Linked DNA regions of Homo sapiens: region 2 is linked to region 1. The links come from fine-mapping of genetic effects on gene expression. A gene starts in region 1. The other region holds a variant in brackets. All regions are shown on one strand. Distances are from middle to middle.

What was found.
Region 2: its variant is fine-mapped to the expression of GRB10 in whole blood (TOPMed, PIP above 0.99).

What each region holds. Positions count from the first base shown.
Region 1 is chr7:50,780,431-50,785,628 of GRCh38, reverse strand. It overlaps GRB10 (growth factor receptor bound protein 10), which reads left to right and starts at 2,733. Exons shown (of 19, transcript NM_001350814.2): 1 at 2,733-3,205; 2 at 4,893-5,002.
Region 2 is chr7:50,708,622-50,713,819 of GRCh38, reverse strand. All of the region lies in intron 4 of GRB10 (growth factor receptor bound protein 10), which reads left to right. Among named protein-coding and RNA genes, the nearest start is that of GRB10, 72 kb to the left of the region's middle. The variant G/T (reference allele first, on the strand shown) is at 2,193.

The DNA.
Region 1 (5,198 bases):
AGAATTGAGTGAAGCCAATGGTTCCACATGTGGGGCTGGCTTGTGTCACGAGCTCCCAGTCCTCCAGACAGTGCTGGGAAGGGGTTGGGGTGGAGGATGTATCTCCTGTCAGTGCCCGTCACCATGGGCCAGGGTTGCATCTGGGCTACATCCCTGCAGGTGCTGGGTGTACAGGCTCTTCAGAGCCCTGGTAGGAGGAGGCTGTGCTGCAGGACATAGGGGTCCCATCAGATGCGGCTCAATAGAGCTGTGGACAGGGCCCAGGGAGGTGAGGCATAGGAAGTGTTTGTCCCATGCAATTTGGCCACATCTTTCACCTTAGAGGCTTCGCTTAGCTGTCTGGGGTCTTCCCACTTTCAAAAGGACATTGCTCAGAAGCTGACAGGAGCCCTGTGTGAGTGAGCATTTAACTGTGGCCTCTGTGGATGGACGCCTGGTTGCTTGTTGTGGGGCTCATGCTTTTGGGTCTCTTCTCAGCTCTGCAGGAGCCTCTTTCAGTTCTGTTGGAGGTGCTGCTCCAGGAGCTGCTGGGGATGGTGGTGGGATTCATATGGCAGCTAGCATGTGATCCACCAAATCTTTCTGGGACTAAAGGCATGGCTGTGTCTGCTGATCCTGGTCCAGAGACCTGTGTCCCTGCTTCCAGAAAAGAAGTCACCTAGCTGATGGAGCTGGGGAGAGGACCCGGGATGAAATGGGGCCCAGCTATTCCTGACACTTCCGATTAATCTTCTTGTTTTGGACTCTACGTTTCCCATTTCCAGAGGTGAATGGTAGTTCTCATTCCTGAGACTTTCTGGGCTTCCACTGAGTATATCATCAGGCTTCATCTCCACTTTCCAGCTTAGCCTTCATCTCTTTTGCCTTTGCTGTCAGTTACTTCTTGACCACTGGCTTTTATGCCTTTTCAAAGATTCTGTTCTTGTTCTAGTAAAGCAAAATGTGTGTCCTGTCAGCCATTCAGTGAAGGTCTGGCTTTTCAAGATTCCTTGTCCATCATTAGATCATTTCTCTCTTGCTCTTCCCACATCCAGGAACAGCTGCTTCGAACTGGGACCTCTGGCATTTTGTAATAGAGGGGAGTGTGGCAGGGAAGCCCTCTGTCCTGCACAACCTGTTGTTCTAGCCCAGGAGATGGCAGGGTGCGTGGGATGTTCAGGCAAAGGAGTTCACCATCCAGGCTGGGAGCTGCTGGGCAGGGAGGCAGAGGAACACTCGAGCCACCTTTGTGGGGTTGACTGCAGAGGTGGAAGAAGCCACTGTGTCAGACCGCAGAAAAGTCTCATATCTGGAGTCTGGAAGGAAAGCCAAGTTCTCCCAGTCAGTAACCTGCTCTGGACTTTGGATAAGTTACATAATTTCTCCACACTTTGGTTTCTCCCCGAATCTCAGGGTTTGATTCTGTGCTTCCATTTCCCATTCTGTGCCTTGCGATGTTCACTATGTGACATCTTCTCTGAGGGGTGCGCAGTTAGAGTCAAAAGCGCTAACACCTTCAATGTTTCTTGCAGTAGCCAGGCCATATGTGGTCAGCCCGGACTGTGAGAAAAGAAAGCCTTGTGTTACCCTTTGTGTTGTGTTGAAAACTGCTCTTGGCTGCTTTCAGAACCAGCCTTAACTCTGCTTTTGTTTGATCGACTTAAACATATTGGAATTTTGTGGTCATGACCACCGTGGAACCTCTCCTTTTGGAGTGCATATCTGCACTTTTTCCAGCCTCCTCCTCCAGTGACCTTCAGGGGCCTGACCTGGCCTCCGAGCAGTTGGACTAGGGTAGCTTTTCCACTCTTTGAACCCCAGACTGAGATGGGGTTTTCCCAGCGCCCTGCCCCTTAACGTGTGTGAATGCAGTATAGGATCTCAGTTTCAGAATCCATTGTCCACTGTTGACTGTTAGGTTCTTACTGCTGTCTACAATGTCTAGCTTTTCCTACCATGTTCTCTGCTAGAGGGGAGTAGAAAATCTGCTTACTGCTTACTGTGGCCTTGTAAACGGCAGTGAATATCTCCAAACGTTCTGTTTTGCTTCCATCATTGCAGGCTCGTGTGTATGTCTGTGGTGTATGTGTGTGCGGGGGTGGGGGAGTATGTGTGATGTGTGTGTGTGGTGTATGTGTGTGTGTGGTGTGTATGTATGTGTGTGGTGTGTATGTATGTGAGTGGGTGGGTGGGATGTGTGTGGTGTGTGTGTGAGGTGTGTGTGGGGTGTGTGTGTGTGTGAAGTGACTAGCACATAGCAGATGCTTGGTATGTATAGGATCTGTTCTTTCCCTCGCTGACTCTCAGTTTAAATGGGACCCTACTTTGTCCTCGTTGTTCAGTAACGTTATGCCTGTGGCTTCCAGAAAGAGCCTCTCCCTTCCTGGTTCTTGCTCTGACATTTTGGGGAGAAGGGTGAGACGAGAGTGATCCTGGAAGAGTAGAACTGGCCGGCCCTGCAGGTGGAAGGTTGCTCGAGCAGGCGGCATCTCTAGCTTGCCGCGGCCGCGATGTCCCCCGCCTGTCTGCGAATGCGGCGTAGCGGGTAGACATGGAGGGCTTTCGGCATCGTCAGAGTGGCCAGTGTGCGCGTCCTTGCCCATCAGGCGGGGGGGCTGTGGGGGAGGAGAGGAGGCAGTGGAGGGAACAAGGGGTTCTTCAGGGTTGCCATGAGAACCAGGGATCCGGGGATTGGGCAGCAGAGGGCCCCCGCCGGGCGTTGGGGCGTGGCCGCGTCACATGGGTTTGGTCCTGGGATTCCTGTTGTGCTCCAGGACCGGGCGCTGCTCCGTCGTCCTCCCGCTCCTCAGGAGCGCCCAGTCCCTCGGAGGCTGAGTATTGCAGCCGGGCGGCAGCCGGCTCCGCGGAGGGGCCCCCGGGCACCTGCGTGGTGATGGCGCTGGGAGCCCCCGGGCACGCTCGGGCGGTGGCGCGGCATCCCACCCTCGCCCGGATGGCGTCCCCAGAGGCGGCGTTGGCCCGCTTTTCGTGCTAGCGCGTTCGCCTGGCGCGCGGTGGCCCCGAGGCCCCGGGTCGGTTTTCTGCGCCGCAGGCCCCTGGCCGGGGCGGAGCCGTGGAGGACCAGCCCGGCCCGGCTCCGAGCGCTGTCCATGCGGAGCGCTGTCCACGCGCCGGGCACTGCGGGGGCCGGGCCCCGAAGCCCTACCCGGGCCGGCGGCGCACACGCAGCGACCCCGTGCGGCCAGTGCTGCCGCCCGCTCTCCAGGTACTCAGGTGGGCTCCGCCGCGGGCGCTGGGCGGTGGGCGGTGGGCGGTGGGCGCGAGCCGGGGCGGCGGGCGGATCGGCCTGCGCAGGCTGCAGAGGCCCCGGCCGCGGCGGACAGGGCCCGGGAGGGAGGCGGGGAGGTCTTGCCGCGCGGCCCCCTGCCCGCCTGCCGCGGGCTCGCTGCAGTCCGAGATCCCGAGCTTCGTTGCCGCCAGCCATAGGACAGTATTATGTAACCATTTTTAATCTTAATTGTTTAATATTATGTAACGAGTAATAACTGTACCCACGGAAACCCGTGACGACGATTCGAGCGAACCTCGCCCGCTCCTTCCTCGCCAGGTGGTGGGCAGCGGGTGTGGGAACCGGTTTGGGAAATGAGTGGATCTGGGCATCCGGGCTACTGCACCGGCTTTTTCTGTGAAAAACATAATGCTAGAGCCTGCCTGGAATTCTCTTAAACCTGGATGGCATATAGTCCGGTATAAAAAAGCTTTGAGTAAACACGTATAGTCAACGTTGCCTCTTTCTCCATGAAAACCTCTTTCTCCCTGGAAGGTGCATATCAGACAATGTGAATTGAGCAGTGAAGATGTGGGCATGGGGTTCGTGTTCTTGATGGAGTTCAAAAAATTGTGCATATGAACACGTAGGACGTCCTAGCCCTTGCTCTTTAGAAAAACAATCGGATCACCTGTTCCACACGCCAGTCGCCTCCTTGGTCGGCTGCCATTTGTCTGTTGATGGTACAGTCCCTGCCAGGGTGCTGGGGGGACCTCGTCTGCGGAGCCGGCACACAGGTGGCTATGGGCGGGGGAGACTGCAGTCTAAACCCGCAAAGCTCTCCTTCCTAGCCCAGTGAGGGGAAGCGTGGGTGTCTTTCCTCATTGTTCTTTTTAAGTCTGAAAGGCAGCGACTGCAGGGATTATGACGTGCTGGCGGCCAGGGCCTCGGGTGCTGCCTGGAGTCTCCTGCGTGTCTCTGCTCCTTTGATGTCAGCATCGGGGGTGGGAGCAGGGCCCACGCATTCCCCCTTTGGCCTGGGTGGGAACAGGGGAGGTGGTGGGCAGGGCCAGAAGGGCTTACTGGGATTTTCTTTCTCTCTGTCACTCCAGAGAAAGGTGGTAAAGAACACTTGTTTCAGTTTGAGGTGCTCGGCAGCCACGCGCTGAAGGACGGTTTTTAATTGTAGGGTGGGGTGTGAGTGCAGTGTGGTTCAGTCCCCTCCCCATCTTGTGCTACCTGCCGTTGTACCTGGACCTGTGAATCAGGGATAATAGTTACTATCTTGTAGGACTGAGAATGGTGCATACTAACTGCTGAGGAACATGGTGAATGGAGTTATGGTAATTGCACGATTGGCATGAAGGGGTGAGAGAAGTTCCAGATTGGTCGATTAAAATGTGAGTTATTTTTAGTGTCTCCTAAGGATTTCCATCACCAGTTGCTCCTCCAGCCATCATGTAATTACCACCCCAGAACTAGGCTTCCAAACTTCGAGAGAACACTGCATCTTTCGAATTTTGGAGGTTAGGCTCCAAAATTTGCATATTTAGGCCACAGCCTAAATTCACTGACACTTGTGTTCCCACAAAAGCCAGGCAGCTTCTTGGAGTATGTACTTGTGACTTAGTAAGAATGTCTTAGGAAACTCGCTTGGACTAGAATGGTTTTACCTTTCTTTCAGACTTGGGAGGCTGCATTCTGATAATTCTCAGGAGGAAGAATGTATAGGAGAGACCAGGGTTTTTAAGGTGTGACCTCTGAACCACCTACATCAGAGCTGACTGCCTCTCGGTATGTATCCCCAGGCCCCAGCTCTGAGCTACGAAACTGACTTTCTGGGCTTGGGACCTGGAATTCTTTGTCTTTGTAAAGCATGCCAGGTGATTCTTACAAGTATAAAGTCTGAGAACTGATGTGGTGTTCTGGGCCTTGTAACTACTGGGGCTTCTGGTGATTCAGTTAGAAAGTTAGCAGCTCCTGTCTGAAG
Region 2 (5,198 bases), 72 kb after region 1:
ATGGTGGAAGTGATGGTGGAGGTGGTAGAGGAGATGGAGGAGGTGGAGGTGAGGGATAGAGATGGTGGAGGAGGTGGAGGTGATGTGATAGTAGAGGAGGTGGAGGTGAGGATGGAGGAGGTGGAGGTGACAATGGAGGAGGTGGAGGTGGTGGTGGAGGAGGTGGAGGTGATGGGGGAGGTGGAGGTGATGGTGGAGGAGGTGGAGGTGATGGTGGAGATGGTAGAGGAGGTGGAGGTGAGGATGGAGATGGTGGAGGAGGTGGAGGTGATAGAGGTAGCAGAGGAGGTGGAGGTGATGGTGGAGATAGTAGAGGAGATGGTGGAGATGGTAGAGGAGTTGGTTGAAGTGCTGGAGGTGATGATGGAGGTGGTAATGAAATGATGGTGGGGGTGGTAGAGGAGATGGAGGTGGCGGTGGAGGAGGTGGAGAAGGTAGAGGAGGAGCTGATGTGGCAGGAGAAGTGATGGAGATGGAAGGAGGTGGTGGGAAGGGGTGGAGTGCTGGTGGAAATGTCGGGAGGGGAGGTAGTGACCGCAGAGGAGGAGGAGGCAGGGGCAGTAGTGGCAGTAGTAAAAATAGCAGCTGAGATTTACTGAGCCGTGCTTTCCATGTGTGATCACACTAAATCTTCAATAGTCCTTGGAGGTTATACTCACACAGGGTGGTTTAATGTCTTCCCCAAGGTCATGTAGCTACTCTTCTGTAGAAATTCTAGAGCTAGTGCTGTCCCCCTTTCGGCCAAAATGCCTCATTGATGTGGGAATACCAGATGCAAAAACAGGAACAAAACTGACTTGGCAAAGGCATTTTATTTTGGGAAAACCATTTGTCAAGATTGACAGGCTCTGGGCAGGAGGTTTCTTTGTAGGGTGATGGAAATGTTCTAAAATTAGATTGTGGTGATGGTTGTACAGATCCTTAATTATACTAACATTCATTGGTTTGTACACTTCCAACAGATGAAATTTATGTTATGTAATTTATATCTCAATAGAGCTGTTTAAAATGTAAATGATTGATAGACTCCTCCCCTTGTGAATAACCAGAATTGATGTTTCTGTGCTGAACACTGCAGAGTGGGTGGTTAAAGTGAGGCAGCTCATGCACTACTTTTGCTTTTAATTCAAGAATGGCTGCACTTGGAGGTAGTTATGTGGAAATAAGTGCCTGAATATGGAGTACAAGCCACTGATCTGTGTGTTTTTTAGGCCGTATGATTTTAGTGAAAATGTGATCATTTTTTATGTGGTGGTATTTTCCCTGCCAGGCCAGGCATTCTTACCATTTGGGAGAAAAGTTTTTTTGTACTCTGACCAGGGCTTGCCCAGATATTTTCATGTTGGCCTCAGCAGCCTGTGTGAATACAATTGTAAGTAAAGAGCATCCCCCTTGTTCCTTGATACGAGACACCTGGCTTGCTGACTTTTCTTTTTCCCCCATCTCAGGCTTTTGGTGGAAGCAGCTCTTGTTTTTGTTTAAGGATCAGTTTGACTGAAATCTCTGCTTAAAAACCTCTTGCTTCCTTTCCTCTTGCATAGACCTAAAGTGTAATATCAAAACAGGCAGTGTCACTTTGGGTGAGAAAAATGGCTCTGGCTCATTTATTATGAAGGTTATTTCCATTTGAGGGACTAGTTTTGTACACCTTGCAACTGGCAGAATAGGAGTGCTGATACTGCAGCTTTTACCAAGTTCACTAATGTTTTAGGATTTTTTTTTTCAGCCTTTTTCAGCCTTGTGGAGTTTCTGCATGTTTTAGGAATTCTCTGAGTGACAGATTTTGTAGTTACCCATAGCTCGGTTGTTAAGGACATGTTCTCTGATTCAGCCCCAATGGGTCTCACACCCACGCTTACGAGATGTGATTCGCTGGGCAAGCTGCTGTCCTCCTTTTTCCTCATCTGTAAAGATGAGGTAGCAACAGTACCCATTAGAGACAGGATTTAAGTGGGAATGTGTGTAAACTGTCTAGCACCGTACCTGGTACCCAGGAACTATAATATTAGTAGAAACCCTGCCATTTTTACATTAATATTTAATAAAAGTATAATTACATGGCTGAGGGAGGGTAGTTGTGAAATCTGTAACTACACTGTATCTGACGGCTTGTGTGTGTTCAGAGTTCTAGAGCAGGCATATGTGCAGTTGGTAGAGAGGGTATCAGGCATTGGAAGGGAACTGATGAGCTG[G/T]GTGATGCCTCCGCTTTCAAAATGCAGGTGACACAGGTAGTCACTCTTCACTCGGCTGCAATAGCTTAATAGACTTGCGGTTTGAAACATTTTACTTCTTTAAGTGCATCCTGTGTGAAATGACAAACCCCATCCCTGTTGCAGTTCACATGTTCATCTGCAGACTCAGCGCCCTTGGGTGGACTCCAGCAATGTGCCCCACCCGTCTCAGCTGATGTCCCTGGCTGGGCAGGAGGGGTTTGGGAAACTGCCTGCAGGAAGGCCCCAGGGAGCTCTGGGACCCGGATGGTGGGTCGTGTAGGATTGCGTCTTCTCCTTTGCACCAAAAATCTGAGGGTAGCTGCAGGAGAGGGTTTCAGGGGGTGGGGGAGGGCTGGGAGAGCCCCTTTTAACTGCACCCTCAGGAGCAGTTCTCATCCACTGTTCTCATCTGTTGCTTTTTTTTTTTTTTTAATTTGGTTGGCTGTTTTTGCATACCTGTAATGTTTAAAGTTGATCCCTGTTAAGCCTGTAGGTTATGATCGGGCATTCTCCCAGGTGGAAGACATTTCGAATCCCTGTCATTCTGCTCTCTGTGGCATTGGTCTTTGTTTACCTTAGTGGAGTTATTAAGTGTGCCTTCTGTGCCGTTCTCCAGGTTCTGAAAATATTGTGCACAGGGCAGGCTGAGGACACAGCCACGTGATACCCACTGTAGAGAGAGGGAGAGAGAGACCTCCTATGCAAGCTGCCGGCCCTCTGTTCCGTAGTAAGGTCAGTGCCCGCTGTCTACCGAACACTCAGTACCTTTAGTTGCTGGGCAAGCCCTTTATTTATGTTATTTTAATTTGAACCTCAGAAGTGACCTATGAAGTGGTCGTTCTGCCTCAGGAAGGTGTGGAGATACCCCGAAGGTGAGGCAGTTGCCCTGAGTCCCAAGACTAACCAGCATGTGGGGGCCTGGGATCTGAGCCAGTGTCCAGCCTGCTGTGCAGTCCTTCCATTTGTCACCTGCAGTGCCCGCCGCACTGATGATGGCACTCCTCTCATCCAGTTTTCCCGCTGCCCCTCCATCCGTGTGTTGCAGTTTTAGATAAGAAAACTGCCTGAATCGCCCAATGAACAACATACCCTGGTTCTCTGGGGCTGGTTCCTCTTGTGCATCTTGTAGTGTTTAGTTGGTACCCAGCAGAGGCAAGAGTGCATTTGATGCTCTAGTTGAAACGGAACGCCAATGACTGGTGGTAGGGGCTGCTTCCTCGCTGTTTTGTGCCCAGGCTACCTTGTGATGCTTTTTGCTGAAGCCTGGGCTTTGAAAGGTGGGTGGTGGAGCATTCTTGTCCCTCTATCCTCACAGAGAAGCAGAGGCTTCTCTCCCCAAGATCTTGGGGTGAGGCTGGGCCATGTGCTGGGGTTGTGAGGATGAGTCAAGGAGGCCCGTTTCTGGGGAGAGGGTGGGCACCAATCCATTCACCCTTGTTACTTCCTGCTTGGAATTAAAGCAGGGCTGCTGGGTAAGGTACGAGGAGGTAGACTTTTCGTTGGGGTTGTCAGAGAAAGTGCCAAAGGGATGAGCCTTGAGGATGGGTTGATGGGGTGTGCATGGTGGATGGGGTAGAGAACATTCTACATAGTGAGCACCCAGGGCCGAGTGCTGTGAGAGGCATACAGCAGTCACTTTGGAGTCAAGGAACACCAGCTGGGTTGTGGCTCCTAGAGTGCCATGGAGGTATGAGCCACGTTACATTAGGAAGGGCAGTTCACACATAGACACCTGGGTCCCCCATCATGGGCCTGACTTAGCAGCTCTGGCTGGGGCCTGGGAGCCTGCATTTCTACCATGTTCTCCAAGGTGAGGACCAGCCACACCAGGCCACCTGGTACCCTAACAGGCATGCCCACAGTCCACAGCACAGCTCACCATTTTCTTCCTCCCACGAGTCACTTTTTATGTGTACTCTTTGAAACCTCCAGCCCTTAATCCACAGAGTGAGGGAAGTTAAGCCACCTGCCTCTGTTAGCCAGGGTCTCGGCAGTCTGCAGCAGGCACCCTCCGGAGGGCGCGGGGTGGGGGTGGGGAGCAAAAAAAAAGAGTTTAATGGAGGGGTCTGGAGAAAGCAGCTGAGTTGTGGGTCCCAGCCTGAGGCCAGCAAGGAGAGGGAGTGAGGCCAGGGGGCATTTGTGCAATCCCCAAAACGTGGCTTACGGAAGGAACAGCCCAGCTGGCCTCCCGGGCCATGTTCCTGCCTGGCCTGGCTCCCTCGGCCGCCCACCACTGGGGGCCAGAGGACCAGCTGTTGGTCGATGCAGCTCAGGCAGACTCACTGCCTGGCACAGGATGGAGGAGCAGACAGAAACCATTCTCCTCACCCACTGGAGGGCTCTGTTACAGGAGATGGCTCAGCACAGGGCCTGGGACTGGGTCACCCTAGGAGAGGGAGGGCTTCTCGTGTTCATCTTTATGAAGGTGGTGTTTCTGCCCTGATCTTGCTGGATGGGCTTGTTCTGACTTTGGCAAGTTTTTCTAAAGCATGTGGATTTGGGAAAGTTCAGCATTAGTGAAGTGACCTGTGGGACTTTAATTAAGGAGCTTGGCTGCCCTCTCCCATCCTTTCACCTTCCCCTAGAGGTAGAGAGCATAGTGATTAAGGGCTCTGAGTAAAAAGCGGACTCACAGCTGGGTACTGTGGCTCACGCCTGTAATCCCAGCACTTTGGGAGGCCAAGGCAGACGGATCACGAGGTCAGGAGATCAAGACCATCCTGGCCAACATAGTGAAACCGCATCTCTACTAAAATACAAAAAATTAGCCAGGTGTGGTGGTGCGTGCCTGTAGTCCCAGCTACTCGGGAGGCTGAGGCAGGGGAATTGCTTGAACCCAGGAGGTGGAGATTGCAGTGAGCCGAGATCACGCCACTGCACTCCAGCCTGGCGACAGAGTGAGACTCTGTCTCAAAAAAAAAAAAAAAAAAAAACAGACTCACAGGGCCTCCCCCATTCCCTTCCCAGTCCTTCCCACAATGGGCG